Linked DNA regions of Homo sapiens: region 1 is linked to region 2. Evidence: fine-mapped expression QTL. Tissue or cell type: testis. Region 2 holds a variant in brackets; the other region holds the start of a gene. All regions are shown on one strand. Distances are from middle to middle.

Evidence for each region. PIP is the estimated chance that this variant, and not a neighbour inherited with it, causes the effect.
Region 1: RHBDF2 starts here. The variant in region 2 is fine-mapped to the expression of RHBDF2 in testis (GTEx, PIP 0.97).

The regions. Positions count from the first base shown.
Region 1 is chr17:76,498,076-76,506,146 of GRCh38, forward strand. It overlaps RHBDF2 (rhomboid 5 homolog 2), which reads right to left and starts at 3,348. Exons shown (of 19, transcript NM_001005498.4): 1 at 3,278-3,348. RefSeq lists enhancers at 2,606-3,275, 3,626-3,765 and a silencer at 2,936-3,575.
Region 2 is chr17:76,471,435-76,479,496 of GRCh38, forward strand. It overlaps RHBDF2 (rhomboid 5 homolog 2), which reads right to left. Exons shown (of 19, transcript NM_001005498.4): 5 at 7,648-7,843; 6 at 7,372-7,575; 7 at 6,223-6,351; 8 at 5,746-5,864; 9 at 5,396-5,590; 10 at 3,596-3,707; 11 at 3,296-3,370; 12 at 2,939-3,100; 13 at 2,599-2,708; 14 at 2,405-2,468; 15 at 2,214-2,308; 16 at 1,818-1,893; 17 at 1,571-1,671; 18 at 1,252-1,405; 1 more. The coding sequence ends at 199. Among named protein-coding and RNA genes, the nearest start is that of AANAT, 7.9 kb to the left of the region's middle. RefSeq lists an enhancer at 1,864-2,374. The variant G/A (reference allele first, on the strand shown) is at 4,444.

The DNA.
Region 1 (8,071 bases), 27 kb after region 2:
CCGGAAGATGTGTTTTTCCTTACACCCATCCTAGGTCTCCTGGGAGGCAAAACGACGTTCCGGGCAGGCTTGGTTTCCCTGTGAAGCCGCCCGTGCCCTGAGAGCTGTCCCTGCCTAGCCACCACCACCGCCGAGGTCAGCCTGTACTTGGGCAGGCGCAGACGTCCCCGCCACTCCTCCCCCAGCCTGGCTCAGCTGGATAGGAAACTGGGAGCCGCTTCCGACAGCCAGCGCTTCCACAGCCGGTGCAGATGCCTGAGCTCACTCTGGAAATCCCCTGGGGCAGATGGGGCAGCGCCGAGGCCTGCTCCAGAGTGCGAGGCACAGAGATCTGAGGAGAGTGTGGAGGGGGAGAGGCAGCCAGGAGGGCACACGTCTTCCCTGTGCTGTGCCAGCGGCAGGCGGGGGCCAGGCCCAAAGGGAAGCACCAGCCAGCTGAGCCATGCCACTCGCACACTCACGGGCAGGCGTGCACAGCTCCTTGACTTCTGCTGTCATCTGTCACCTTGTCTGGGGCAGAGTTTACACAGCAAGGACAGAAACCTTGGTGGAGAGGCCACCACAGTATCCAGAGCTGAGGCCACAGGAAAAACAGCACCACTGACCCCAGAGCAGGACTCGGGCCCCAAGTGCGTCACCCAAAGCATTTGTAGTGTGATTTATTCCTCCTCTTATAGGAACAAAAGTCCCCCTCCTGGGCTGGAGAGAAAGAGAGTGTGTGTGTGTGTGTGTGTGTGTGTGTGTGTGTGAGTCTGTGTGTGTCTGTGTGTTTGTGTGTGTCTCTGTGTGTCTGTTTGTGTGTGTCTGTGTGTGTGTGTGGTTACACCAGGTACAGACAGGTAGGAGTCACTGAGGGTTTGTTCGTGGGGCTCTTGGGTGGGGCCTGAGGGTGGGCAACTGGGTTCACACCCGAGCTCCACTGCCGACTTCCTGAACAACTTTGTACAAGCCTGGGTGCTCAGCCCTGTCCCTTGAGAGGCTCACAGCAATGGAGGCCACTTTTGTTTTTTGTGCAAATGAAAAGGTGGGAGTTTCACTTCAGCCTTTTACAGTCAAGAGACCAAAAAAACAAAAACAAAAACAAAACAAAACAAAAAAAACAAAAGCCACCAACACCAACAAAAAGAACCCAAGCTCGAAACCTCCACCAGGGTTCCCAGGCAAGAAGGCTGGGTCCAGAAGTGAACAGGATGGGTATAATGGCTACTGCAAGAAAACAGGGAGGGAGGGCAGCGAGGTGGCCCCAGCTCCTGGGCATGGACGTGGCTGCTTCATCCGATCCTCTCCCACCGTGCCAGCCACCCCTCCTTGTTGCCAGAAAACTGGAAGTACATTCCTCCAGCCCAATACAAACAACTCTGAGTCATCCCTACTGGGGGGCCACCTGGCCTGTGCTTTGATGTCTCCCATCTCTCACCTCTGCTCAGCTAACACCATGGGCAGGGGTGCCTCCACCCCATCAGCAGCTGGGCCCACTCCAGGGCTCGTCAGCTAACCCAGGGTGCCCTCTTTATTGCAGGACAAAAGCAGCCTGGGGACCCCCCAGGAATTAGGAGCCCTGATACTCCTTGGATGTCACTTTCAAAAGGTGTACATAATTGGAGGAGTTAGGTGTGAGTTCAGAAGGGAAAATTCCAGCAGGTCACATGGTATCAGGCAACCATGCCAGCTTCAGCAATCCAGCTTTGGGAAAATCTATGGGAAGAGAGCTCGCCCTCTGCCCACCCTCCCAGCCCAGGGATATTTGAGCTCAAGGGCTGCCTCAGCCCAGCCTTCCTGGGAGATTGCCCTGGGGTTAAGCACCCCAGGCCTGGGCTGCAAGGGGGTCCTCTGTTCCCAACCTCTCCCCCACAGCACCTAGACCAGCTTCCTGCAGGGCCAGTGGAGATTGGGAAAGGCGGTGTCTCATGGCACCAAAGGAAGACTCTTGTGAGGGGAATAAGTGCCCTCACACTGCCTTACCCCTCATCTCATTCAGGTTTATTCCAAGTTCCTCCCCTAACCACTCTGGAAAACTGAGGTAGTTTCCCCAGTGAGGGAGCATCATTGAGAAGGAACCTGATGGACCAGCTGCTGCGCAGGGTTTCTCAGCCTCAGCACAGCCCAACACCTTGGGCTGGATAATTCCTCGTTATGTGGGCTGTTCCGTGCCCTGAAGATGTCTGGTAGCGTCCCTGGCCTCTACCCACTACCTGCCAGTAACAACAACACTCACTTCCCCTCCCAAGTGTGTGACACCCAAAATGACTCCAACATTGCCAAATATCCCATGGCAGGCAAAGTCGCCCCTGGTTGAGAACCACAGCTCTAAAACACGCCTCCCTTTCCACTGCCTGCCCTACGGACAGTGAGGGTCGAATAAGGCAGATGCTGGTCTCATTATATTACCAGCAAATGGCACACACTGGGGGCCTGATGCCAGCCGCCCAGGCAACAGCAGCCTCTCCCCAAGTGGGGTCAGCTCCCCACCGCCTTCTGCTCCTCAGACACACCCGCTGCCACCCTCTCAGTAGCTCCAACCCTAGAGCCCCCTCCGTTAATCTTTCATGGAATGGGGCAGGGCCAAAACCTAGGCTTCCTTTGCGCCCTGGCGTGGGAGTGGGGCGGGGTCTGTACCCTAGGGAACTTATCCGTCTCTATCCCAATGCCCTGGGGGAACATCCGAGGGGCCAAACAGGTAAAAGGCAAGCCCAGGGCCAACCTTCCCCAGCCCCTCCATCCAGAAGTCAGGACTCCTGGGTCCAATTTCTGAGCTCCGGTCCAGCCCTGCTGTGTGAGTCCCTCATCCCCACCCCCGCACCTGTTTCCACCTTGGCTGGCTCAACCAACAAACTTCGGCCCCGGTCCGCCCGGTGCTCACCCGGGAGAAAGTGGAGGGGAGAGAAGGGTCTGAACTGCAGGCACTTCTGGGACGCAGGCGGGACTGCCCTGCGCAGTCTCCTCTCTTCCTCCGGAGGTTTAAATCTCTGCCCAATCGTCTTGCCCCTACATCTGGCGCCCCGTCGCCCAGGGACCCCTTAGGCGTCCTGTCCGAGCCGAGCCCTAGGGGCCAGCAGACCGGGTCCAGCGGCCCCGCCGGCGCCGTCTGAGCCAGCCCGGGCCTCCAGCCGAGCCCACGTGGGACCCAGGCGCTCCGCAGGGCGGGCACCGGGCACTGGGCACCCTTCCTGGCCGCGCACCACCGCTCCAGGGCAGGCTCGGGCACAACCTCGGGACCCTTCCGGCGCCTGCGGCTGGGCGGCCGTGAGTCCTGCCCCGCTCGTCGCCCCGCGCTCACCTCCCTGCGGCCCCAAGTCCCCGGGACGCAACTCCGTGCGGCGCCTGCGAGCGGCTGGGCGGTGGCTCCTCGGGGGCGGGGCGGCGGCGCTCCGCCTCTTCCCTACCTGCGCGCGGGCGGCCGGGAGGCGGGGCTGGGCTCCAGGGGGCGTGGCCGGGCTCATGGGGGCGGGGCCTGGACGCAGTCTTTGCTCAGTCGGCTTCCTGGGTTCCTGCCTCCGCCCTCCACCCAGCTGGGTCCCCGCCTGGGCAGAGCCCTGTTTTCGCCTGAGCTGGTCTCTTCAGGGCGCCGTCCTTTCCCTCTTGGCGTCCTCACTCCACCCCAGACCAAACACGTCATCTAGGTCTTGATTGCCGTCTTCAAGTCGCCCCTCCCCATCAAGAAAAAGCACCCAATCTCCCATCCCCTTCTTCCAGCGCCCTCATCCTCAGGCCAAGTGGGCCTGTTCCCTTGACCCTTTTAGTCTGTAGTCACACTCTCTCCGGGAAGCTGGGCCTGAACACCTCCTCTCCCTCCTGGACCCTGAGGCCTCTCTCCTAGCTCTGCTGTGCCCTTGGGTTGGGAACAGGCACTCCGTGGAGGTCCTATCTGCATTTGCCCTGCAGCTAAGGCCAACATTTGTGACTCCTGCCAACCCCCTACACACCCCGTAGAAGCATTGACAGAACCCACCCAGCTCTGGCCCTTCCAGCTGCCATGCGGGCCAGAGCCAGACTGGAGATTGGGGACGCTGGCGACACCTGGCCCCTTGGCTTGGGTCTGTCTGCCCAGGTGGTTCCTTCTCTCTTCCCTGGACTCCAAGGGCCTGCCTCTTGGGACTAGACAAACAAAACCTTGGCCAGGGCAGCTAGGACCGAACTCCAAGGTCTGGATGCCCCGTTCTCAGCCCCAGCGCTTATCATCTCGCCGTCCCTCTCCAGGAGGCCTGGCTAGGCCAGGAGGAGCAGAGTTTGAAGAGACTCAGGCTTGGAGGGGTGGGGGTGGGGTTGTCAGGGCCAAGGCAAAACCTCTGGCCCTTAGAGAGCTCCTGAGCCACCCTGCCCCCCAACCCAAGGACTCTGGTGTTTATTGCTGACCTGGGTGGAGGTGGGGAGCACCTGGCTGCTGGAGATTATCCTGAGAGATGCATCTCTCCTCCCCAGCTCTGGGGCCATGAGGAGGGCACAGGCTGGAAGGAGGGGGAGTGGGCCAAAGCTGGGGTGGGGGTTGCTCCTAGTAACAAATGTAAGGGACCATTTATTGTGCAACCAGCACATCCTGGGGTTATGTGCAGAGAGGAACAAAACCAGGGCCTGCCCACGAAGTGCCAGCATTCTACAGGGAGACGTTGGAACTCAATACTGTAACAGGAAGGGTGAGAGCAGCTAGCCATTCCAAAGTGCTTTAGTCTGTATAATCCGCAGTACAGGTCTATGAAGTGGGTACCATTATGATCATCCCCATTTTAGGGATGAGAAAACTGAGGCAGAGGGAGATGTGAGGGGAGCAGCTGGGGTTTAAACTCGGTCATGATCTGACTTTAGACTCTAACAAACACTGCTGCAAATGCCTGAGCTGGGTTCTCTCTCCTGGAGCTCTACTGGAAGCTCTGCAGGAGTCCCCAGGAGGGGAGGGATTCATGGTGGTGCTTAAGCTGGTGTCAGGGATTTGTCCCATGCAAACATGGCGTGCTGCCCGGCCACATAGGTGCAGGGAGGCTGATTACAGCCTTGGCTGCAGCAACACGCACCTGTGAGGCCAGAGAGGGAAGAATGTTAAATAGGCCAGGGGTATAACTTGTGATAATGTCACACAGCTGTTAAAAGCAACGAGGCAGCTATCCATGTACTGAGAAAGGAATTATCTCCAACTTATAGTAAGTTAAAAAAAAAAAAGCAAGCTGCATGTTTAGTATAATCCTATTTACCTAAATTTAAATAGAACAGACATATATATGTTGGTAGATCCATACAAACTTTCTGGAAGGATATCTGTGGAGTAACCCTGCAGGGGTTTAGGGGGAGAGAGTCACTTGCTTTTCATTTTGTATCATGTGCATATATTACTTACATAACTTAAAGAGAAACACTGTCTAAACTCTTTGTTTTTGTTTTGAGACAAGGTTTTGGTGTCACCCAGGCTGGAGTACAGTATACTCATGGCTTATTGCAGCCTCGACCTCTGGGGCTCAAGTGATCCTCCCACTTCAGCCTCCTGAGTAGCTGGGACTATAGGTGCACGCCATCCTTTCTGGCTAACTAAATTTTTTTTTTGTAGAGATGGTGGTGGGCGGTGGGGGGGGGCCTCACTACGTCGCTCAGGCTGGCCTCAAACTCCTGGATTCAAGTGATCCTGCTTTGGCCTCCAAAATCGGTGGGATTACACTTTACATATTTTACTTTTATAACTTAAAGAAAAACACTGTTGGCCGGGCGCAGTGGCTCACTCCTGTAATACCAGCATTTTGGGAGGCCGAGGCGGGCAGATCACCTGAGGTCGGGAGTTCGAGACCAGCCTGGCCAACATGGAGAAACCCCATCTCTACTAAAAATACAAAATTAGCCAGGCGTGGTGGCACATGCCTGTAATCCCAGCTACTCGGGAGGCTGAGGCAGGAGAATCGCTTGAACCCGGGAGGCAGAGGTTGCAGTGAGCTGAGATTGCACCATTGCACTCCAGCCTAAGCAATAAGAGGGAAACTCTGTCTCAAAAAAAAAAAAAAAAAAAAAAGGAAAAGAAAAAGAAAGAATAAGTGAAAAACACCGTCTAAGCTTTTTTATTTTTATGGACCTACAGGTGTAGGGAAGATCTTCACAGATTGGGATAAGGAAAGGGATTTCTAGTGGGAAGAACAAGAACGAAGACACAGCCGGGAAACTGGCTGTGGTGGGGAAGCTTCTGGTGCTATGGCTTGGCTACATCGCAGGCTGTGTGAGGAGGAGGACAGGAGAAGCCTGGGGAGGCAGCGGGGGCTCAGGGTGGAGGCTGCTGTGTGTCTGGATAAGGGTTTTTACTTTCTTCTGTAAGCAAGGGGGAGCCCATGAGGCATTCTTCAACTAGGAAATTGCACCCTCATATTTTCTGCTTGTGTCCCCTCCTTTAAAACATGCTTTCACAGACACTATTTCATTTATTATTATTATTTATTTATTTTTGAACCGCAGTCTCGCTCTGTCGCCAGGCTGGAGTGCAGTGGCGCAATCTCCACTCACTGCAACCTCGGCCTTCTGGGTTCAAGTGATTCTCGTGTCTCAGTTTCCCGAGCAGCTGGGATTACAGGCATGCGCCACCACATCCAACTAATTTTTTTTTTTTGAGACAGAGTTTCTCTCTTGTTGCCCAGGCTGGAGTGCAATGGCGCAATCTCGGCTCACCACAACCTCCACCTCTCGGGTTCAAGCGATTCTCCTGCCTCAGCCTCCCAAGTAGCTGGGATTACAGGCATGCACCACCACACCTGGCTAATTTTGTATATTTTTAGTAGAGATGGGGTTTCTCCATGTTGGTCAGGCTGGTCTCGAACTCCCAACCTCAGGTGATCCTCCTGCCTCTGTCTCCCAAAGTGCTGGGATTACAAGTATGAGCCACTGTGCCTGGCCTTTTTTTTTGTATTTTTAGTAGAGATGGGGTTTCACCATATTGGCCAGGATGGTCTCGATCTCCTGACCTCGTGATCTGCCCACTTCAGCCTCCCAAAGCACTGGGATTACAGGTGTGAGCCACTGTGCCCGGCCTATTATTATTTTTTGAGGCCGTTATCTTGCTCTGTCATCCAGGCTGGAGTGCAGTGGTACAATGGGAATCACTGTAGCCTCAACCTCCTGGGCTCAAGTGATCCTCCCACCTCAACCTCCTGAGTAGCTGGGACTACAGGCCACCACACTCAGCTAATTTTGCTTTATTGTTTGTAGAGATGGAGGTCTCACTATGTTGCCCAGGCTGGTCTTGAACTCCTGGACTCAAGCGATCTTCCCGCCTCGGCCTCCCACAGTGCTGGGTTTACAGGCATGAGCCACTGCGCCCAGCCTATTTTATTTTTTAAATCTTGACAACAATTCTGCAGATAGGCAGGTCAGGCTTTACAGATGAGGACACTGAGGCTGCTGTGGAATTAAGACCAGCGACAGAGTTTGACATTGAGAAGCGTTGGTCCTCAGTGAGTACTGCCTTAGAGGAAGGCAGGAGAACATGCCCCAGAGAGGGACCCACCCTGGGAACTGCACACCCTGAGACCCCCTCAAGACTCACTTTGTGATCCTCGGAAGAAAAGGGCAGAGGGTCTTGAAGCCATTAGTTAGCAAACTCAGAAAAGCTCCGACAACACACCTTTGAAGGACGCCCTGGTATTTGTCCACGGGAGTAAAATATTAGGGGTCTATGTTTAGCTTTTTTCATTTTTAGAACGTGAGCGGCCGGGTGTGGTGGCTCACACCTGTAATCCCAGCACTTTCGGAGGCCAAGCCGGTGGTGGATCACTTGAGGTCAGGAATTCGAGACCCACCTGGACAACATGATGGAACCCCCATCTCTACTAAAAATACAAAAATTAGCCAGGCATGATCGCACATGCCTGTAATCCCAGCTACTTGGGAGGCTGAGGCAGGAGAATCGCTTGAACCTGGGAGGTGGAGGCTGCAGTGAGCTGAGATCGCGCCTCTGCACTCCACCCTGGGCGACAGAGTGAGACTCCATCTCAAAAAAAAAAAAAAAAAAAAAAAAAGGAACAGTGAATCTTTTGAATGAGAGGATGCTGGATGCTGACTTCCTTGTCAAGGTTCAGAGAAGTGTAGGACTGTGCCCAAGAACGCACAGGTG
Region 2 (8,062 bases):
CGCCCCAGAAAAACCCCGCCTTAACCAACCATCTCACGCGGAGTCAGCCTCGCCTGGCAGGGGGGCACCCAGGTCCAGAGCCCGGGCCCTGTCTTGGGTCTCTGGCTCTCTGGCACACAGAGAGCGCTCTGCAGAGGGCAGCCCTCGCAGGCAGACCCTGTTCCAGCAGGGCTGAGGGGCAGCCGTGTGGCCCAGCGGTCAGTGCAGCACCTGGTCCAGCTCATACTTCTCGCAGAAGCGGCTGGTGAAGGGGAAGCAGGTGAGGTGCTCGATCCAGGGCCAGTTAATGGGGTAGATGTACAGCCACAGCACGAGGGCGGCGAAGAGGCCGGCAAAGGCCAGCAGTGACACCAGGATGAGTGCCCGCTTGCGGTACTTGTCGCTGGTGCCGAAGGTGATGTAGGGCAGGAAGGCGAAGGCCAGCAGCAGGCCACTGAGGAAGCCGAAGATGTGGGCGATGTTGTCGATCCAGGGCAGGAGGCCACAGATGAACAGGAAGAGCACGATGGCCGAGAGGTTGAGGAAGGCCTTCCAGGGCCTCTCCAGCAGCGGCCAGCTCTGGAAGAGCTCCACGAAGAGGCAGGCGAGGAGGCCGAACTGTGAGCCGGCCGGGCCCACCTGGGGCGGGGCAGGGGAGACGTGGCTTCAGGCATCAGGTGGGTGGCCTGGGCCGGGCCTGCACCCTGGGTCATCCCATCGATCAGCTCCTCCCTGGCAGGCATGGGGACCCCTGAGGCTGAGGGGCAGGGGGTCGGCTGGAGCTGCTGGACCAAAGCTGGGCCTGCTCCGCCCATTCTTTCAGCAAACACTGAGCGCCTACTGTGTACGTGCCTGGTGTGGGTCCGTAGCAATAAGCAAGACAGACAAGCCTGTTCCAGGCCGCACACGGTGGGGAGAGGACGGACACTGAACAAACTAGATCAGTCAGGTGGAACTGATCAGACTGCCGACGGCGCACGGAGGCCATTTCCTACCGCTCGACCTGCAGATACCTAGCATACTGTCAGGCAGTGGGCACGGTTAGGAAGATAAATGAGGCGGTGGAGGGACAGGGTGACTCAAGAGCATCACTGTTCCCTCTCACTGGGATTAAGAGACCAGCCAGTAAGCCCCCAGATTAGCTGTCCCTCCGCTGTGGAGCCCAGTACAGGAGGGGCACCGTGTCCCTCTGGCAGATCCCAGGTGGGTGGAATAGGAGCAGCAGGGCTGGCCCCCTATGTGCGGAAGGGGTCCCATCCTCCACATCCTTACCTCTGCCCGGTATGGGAGAAAGATGGCACTGGCGAGGTTGCCTGTGATGCCACTGAGGATGAAGATGATGGCGATACGGTGCCAGCCGGCCAGCTTCTCCAGGTCCCTCAGGATGGTCATTTGAAAGACCACAGACACGAGGCAGTGCACCACGCTGGGGGAGGGACACACCAGGCAGCGGCCTTCAGCCAGGCACTTCAGGAGCAGTAGGCTTCGGCAGGTTGGGCCGGCCATGCCCTGGCCCAGGAACCTTTCCCCAGGGGTCCGGCTGGGTGGCCATCACAGGGGTCGGGTTCGGGGGCAGTGAGGAGCCTCTTACCCAGCATGTAGGAAGAGAGACAGCCAGAGCCTGTAGAACTGATCTGGGACCTCAGGGTTGAGGAAGGGCAGCAGCCCACACACCTTGTCCAAGCAGTGCACCTGGGAGTGGGCATATGGTGCTCAGCGCCCCAGAAGCAGGCTGAGTCTGAGGCTCCGACATGGGAGGGAGTGCGTGAGCCCCGGCCCCAGCAGGCTGCCATGCCCAGCGTCCTCTCCTCCACTACTCCAGGCCTGCCTCGCCTCACCTGGGAGCAGAGTGTTGCTTCCTCATGGAAATAGCCGTGCATGAACTCACAGTATTCCCGGGTGGTGATCTCACAGCTAAGGGGGTGGTGAGGCAAGAGGGGACATCAGGGCGCCGAATAACCACTGCCCACCTTTGCCCAGAGCCCAGCACCTGGCTACAGGAGGCATCGCTGGCAGGAAGGGGGATGCCGCATCCAGAACCTTCGACTCTGGAGCAAGCTTCCTTCCTCCAGCTCGCACCATGGGTAGCCCCAGAGCAGGGGAGCAAAGGACAGTTATTGGAGGGCATCGGCCCAGCGGCTGTGGGTGGTGACGGTGGAGGAGCAGAGGGCCCACAGGAAGCCGCAGCTCGGGGGGGCAGTGGGATGGCTGAGGCCAGGGCCCAGGTCGCTCACCTGCCCTTGGTGCCGATGCAGCAGGGGCGGCCCTTGATCTCGCAGTCCATGTGCAGGAAGCCTGTGTGGTTGCTCCTGGCCTGCTCTGTGCAGATCTGCCAGGAGGGGGCACCGGCAGGGAAGTGGGCTGTGCAGCAGGCAGGTCCCCCATCCCTGACCTTCCCAGACCACTCCCCGCCAGGGACACTCACCGGCCACTTAGTGATGTCATCGGGCCAGATGTGGGCACCGCTGGAGGCTGGCTCCTCGCAGGTCCTGGAGACAGGGTTCAGATTGGGCTGTGGCACACCCAGCGTGCCACGTCCACCTACCCACGTCCCTGTGGGTGGCTCAGATGGCATGGCTATGCCTGACCCTGAGGCCCAGCAGAGGCTCCAGGCCCTACCTGGGGTCCTGGTGGCAGACAGCCCCCGAAGTCCGCTTCTGGCCCAGATCAGACTTGTCCATGGGGGGCCCAGTGTCATCCTGCCACTTGACAAAAGTGGCCAAAGTCTCCTGGAGGGCAGAAGAAGGCTGGTGGGTCATGTCGGGGCCAGGTCACCCCCACTGGAGTGGGCAAGGACAGAGGCTTTTCCCATCTCCCCAGGGCTCAGTCTCATCTATGGGGGTCTGGGAAAGGTGGGGCGGGGAGGAGGGAACGTGGTCACTGCCCTTGAAGGACAGGGCAAGTGGAGCTAGTCCGGGACCAGGGTCTGGCAGGGGTAGGAGGGAGGGCCTGCCCCCACCGAGCAGTCCTTCCGCTGGGTCTGGATGCATCCGGAGTGGTCATTCTGGACACAGCAGCCTGAGTCCCGCTCCAGGTCTCGCTCGCGCAGCACCAGCTGCTCGATCTGCCCGTCCTTCCGGATGCAGGGTGAGAACTTGGCCCCCAGGTGGATCAGGTCAATCTGGGGAAGGGAAAGGGAGGGGAGAGAGTGAGTTTGAGCCCCAGACCTGGGAGGGGTCCATCACTCCACCTCTGCCCCGCAGAGTCTCCCCTGATGAGGGGCCTGCGGGTGGGTGAGGAGCCCACCTGCCCAGCTGGGAGTGACAGGGCACAGGGACTCCTGGCTCAGATGATGTCCCCCAGCCTGGGCCCTCACCGAGCTGGGGCCAACCCAGAAGTTCTCCTGCTGGATGTACTTCACGCTCTCGTACACACCTTTGTTCCGCAGCACCTATCGTGGAGGTAGCACAGAGGAGGGCGTCAGAACAGTGTGGGCCCTGGGCATGGGGAGCTGGGGCAGCTGTCCCCAGGATAGAGCCTCCAGGAAGGGGCCAGGCTATGGTGAGCACCACCCTGCTGGGGCCAGATTGTTGCGGTGGGAGGGATTAGGTACCCACGACACTGAGGCCTCCTAGGAGAGGCTGGGACCCCCAGCATGGAGCCTGACCCGACTCACCAGCTGGGTGGTGACGTGCTGGGCAAAGCCCACGGGTGCGATGCCATACGTGCAAATCACCAGCAGCGTGATGATGACATGGACGAAGGTCAGCCAGTAGGTGAAGTAGGGCCTGTGCAGAGACACCTCGGGTCAGCTGAGCCGAGCTCCTATCCCAACCCCCAGTCCCGGCCACAGGGCCACCCTGGCCTGGTCACATGGCTCGCCTGGGCTCCCTGTTCTGCCCCGTCAACTCATCTCAAACCAGAGGAACTTTTAAGACGAGCCTCCAAGCATCTCTCTCCTAGCTTAAAACCTTTTGATAGCTTTCCACTGGCCTTGGGACAAATTCCAGAATCACCCCCTCTTGCTGGCTGCAAAGCTTTGCCTGACCGACCACCTCTCTGGCCTCTTTGCCTGCATTTCCTGGGATGTACTTTGCCCTTCCAGCCCCAGGGCCTTTGCACATGACATCACAGTTTGTCCTGACTGCACCCCTCCCCACCAGCTGTTCACTCTCCCTCTCTATCCTCCTCCGGGACACCCACCACACCTATCATTGCTTGTTCTTTTCTTTTCTTTTTTTTTTTTTGAGACAGAGTCTCGCTCTGTCACCTAGGCTGGAATGCAGTTGTGCGATCTCAGCTCACTGCAACCTTCGCCCCCAGGTTCAAGCGATTCTCCTGCCTCAGCCTCCCTCGTAGCTGGGATTACAAGCACCCACCATACCTGCCTAATTTTGTTTGTCTTTTTAGTAGAGACCAGTTTTCACTGTGTTGGCCAGGCTGGTCTCGAACTCCTGACCTCAGGTGATCTGCCCACCTAGGCCTCCCGAAGTGCTGGGATTACAGGTGTGAGCCACCGGGCCT[G/A]GCCATTGCTTGTTATTTTCTTTTTCTTTTCTTTCTTTTTTTTTTGAGATGGAATTTCGCTCTTGTTGCCCAGGCTGGAGTACAATGGTGCGATCCTGGCTCACTGCAACCTCTGCCTCCCAGGTTCAAGTGATTCTCCTGCCTCAAGCCTCCCGAGTAGCTGGGATTACAGGCATGCACCACCACGCCCGGCTAATTTTTTGTATTTTTAGTAGAGATGGGGTTTCACCATGTTGGCCAGGCTGGTCTTGAACTCCTGACCTCAGGTGATCCGCCTGCCTCGGCCTCAGAAAGTGCTGGAATTACAGGCGTGAGCCACCGCGCCCTGCCTGCTTGTTATTTTCTAATTTGGGCCCAGTGTTTATTGGGCTGCTGCAAATCAGATGCCCTGTTCTTCCCCAAGGGCTCTGCATAGCCTCTCCCAGAGTCCCCTCCCTCCCAGCCCCAGCTTCTTCTTTTAAAGTAGAGGTAGGGTCTCACTATGTTGCCCAGGCTGGTCTCAAACTCCTAGGCTCAAGCAATCCTTCTGACTCAGCCTCCCAAAGTGCTATAATTACAAGTGTGAGCCACGGCGCCCAGCCCTGGCCCCAGCTTCTAACTGTCCTCTGACCGACCCTGCCCTCCCTGCTCCACCCTCTGGGGGTTCCATTTTAGGGCCTGCAGGCAGTGACACTCAATGAACATTTGTTGACTGACTGCTGTCTGGGAGCAAGGCTGGGGACCAGGCTCAGAAAGCATGGGGTGGAAGAGAGGCAGCAAGCACCCCTGGCCCTTCCCAGGTCATGTGCACAACCCTTGGGACAGGGTGCGCCTTCGAGCTTGTCACTACACTCCTGATCCGCAGAAGATGCTCATGAAACACTTGCTGAATGAGTAAGGGGGCGCTTCAGGAGGGCCCAGAGGAATTTGGAACCTTCCAGGCTCTCCTGGGGGCTCCAGGGCGACACCTCACCGGTGGCTGTCGAAGCTCTCCAGCTGCCGCTGCACAGTGCTGCTGATGCTGCGGCGGTAGCTGCGGTTCAGCCAGTTGCCCACCACGCCGAGGCCGTAGTGCCGCTTCTTCCGATCAAAGGCAAAGTGCTTCACCTTGGAGGCGATGCGCTTGCCGCGCCGGGGCCCGGGGACTGGGGCTCGGCCATACTCCTTCCTGGTGGGGATGGTGGCTTTCAGCCTGAATCCCCCACCAAAATACTCCCAGACCCCACCAGGGTGCTCAGAAGGGGCTTGGGGGCCAGGGTGAGGTCTGGGGATGCCCCCAGGCTGGTGGCTGGCCTGGAGGAGGGACTCTGCCCCAGCACTCACAGAGGGATTTGCACCCCATCGGGGGAGACAGGGGAGGCTGAGTGTGGGATCCCTCGGAAGTAGCTGGCAGAGAGTGGGGGGGACTCAAAGACATCATCAGGCATGGAGCTCATTTCTTCCTGGGGTGGGGGACAAGAAAATACAGTGTAAGGAGTCTGTCCCAAACACTGCCCCCCGGAACCTCAATTCAAGGGCAGGACACAGCTGAACAGACGGGCTCTTCACAATGAATTGGGAAGCCACATGCCCGTCAGCCCCAATGGTGACTTTCCCGGGTGGCACTGTGCCCCACCGCAGGTCTTCACCCTACCCAACAGAAAGATGGGGGCCCAGCAGCTCCACATAGGACCATGCCACATCCCAGCAGTGGGCCTCTGGGTCCCTCAGGGGTTCCTGAATATGATCAATGCCAAGGTCACCTCACCCAGCTCCCAGGCCACCCCACCCAACTCCTGCTGTCCCACACCCCATGCTTGCCTTACTAAAAAAGGAGGAGTCAAACGTGTCTGCCCCATCGACCACATCCTCCTCCAGGAAGCTCGGGAAGGCAAAGCTGCGCTTGACCACCCGGCACCGCTGTCCGGTGGCATCCAGCACCGAGCGCCCCTGTGCACGGGCAGAGGCACAGCCATCAGGACCACAGCCTGGCCACCTAGGCCCCCAGCCCCAACACCGAAGGAATCATCAAGCCCATCCGCCTGCAGGCAGCGCCTTGGGAGGAGGGATCCTGCCCAAAGCGTGGAGATTCTGCAAGCTGAACGGGCAAGAGGAGCTCCTGAGACTGGAAGGCCAGGAAATGAGACACCAGCTTCCGTTGGCACACCACTCTTGGCACAGTTTGGAGTCACCTTTCCCTTGGTCCCTGCTGCCCCTCTGCCTTGGGCTGCTGGTACCCTAACACTCAAAGCAACCCACATTCTATACCCTCACTCCCGAGGCTTGGGCCATGTCTCCCTGTCCCTGTTTCTTGGCACGGAATACCAGGTCCCTGCCCACCTTTCTGACCCCATCTCCTGCCACAGCTCCTATAACCACCCTTCACTAAAACCACATCAAACCGCCTGCTGCCCCCTCAAAGCACTGTACTTCCTCTGGGCTCCTGGCCCTTGCATAGGCCATTCCCTCTGCTGAGAATGCTGTTCCCTTCCTTCCCTAGTGAACGTCTCCTTGTGTCTTCTGGGCTTAACTCAATGTCTTCCCTGATAACAGCCGCTCTCCTAAACTGACCACCCTGAATGGTGACCCTCACCCTGGGCTGCGAGCTCAGCCAGGATGGCGATGGCTCTGCACGCGGTGCCCAGCACGTAACAGGGACTTGGAAAACCCGGGTGGATGAGGAGCAAGTATGCATCTCACTTCCCACTTCCCCAGCTTAAGAGTCAGTGCAGAGACCAGGTTCCAAAACTTGGCAGGGGGTCACACGAGATTTAAGACAGAAGGATGGACGCCTGGGTGCTGGGCTTCGGGGTCCCTCTTTGCCCAGGGATCCCAGCACATCCACTGTCCTTGGCACCGTAGGCAGATGCCCAGGTGAGCTTTAGGGGATGCTACTATGAGGAGTGGAAGGGAGGGGCAAGGAAGGGAGGCCGGGCAGAGGTGGGGGCCCTGCAGGAGGGAGCCCCGCACCTTGAGGAGGGCAGCGGCAGCTTGCAAGCTCATGTGGGCCACAGACATTCTCTTGCGGCGTGGCAGGTGGGAGTAGCCAGAACGGACACTGGTGAAGGAGGTGAGGGACAGGACTCCGGGGGTCAGCGGTGGGTGCGGGGCGTGGGGCCTGTCCATCTCCTCCGGGTGGCGGAAGGCCCGGCCCCGGGCCAGCGGATCCACAATCTGGAAGGGAGGGGGGCGGTAAGCAGAGCCATTAGGGTCCCCACCCCTGCCTCCTTTCCCCATGGATCCCACCTTGGGCATCTTGCAGGGCTTTGGGGACTCAGTGCCCTGGAAGGACGGTGCCTCCTGGCTGGGGAGCTCCAGGTCACGCTGGCACGAGGCCTTCAGGCGGCCGTAGCGCATGCTGCAGTGGTGCAGGCTGCGGCGCTGCCACTGCTGCCGCTGCCCCTCCCAGTCGCCGCTGACTCCAAACCACTGGGCTGCGCCCCTGCGGAAGCAGACAAGGGACAGGTGGGCATACGCTTGTCTACGCCTGTGCACCTGAGTGTGTGGAAGGGGTGATGGCACGTGTGTGCCCGCGTGCCTACAGGGAGGTGGGGGGCGGATCTGCCTGTGAGGCCCCTGGCTGGAGCCCAGTGACCAGATGAGCAGAAGCAGGGGATGACGGGAGCGTGAGGAGCCAGGCTAGGGCCCCAGGCACCCCCAC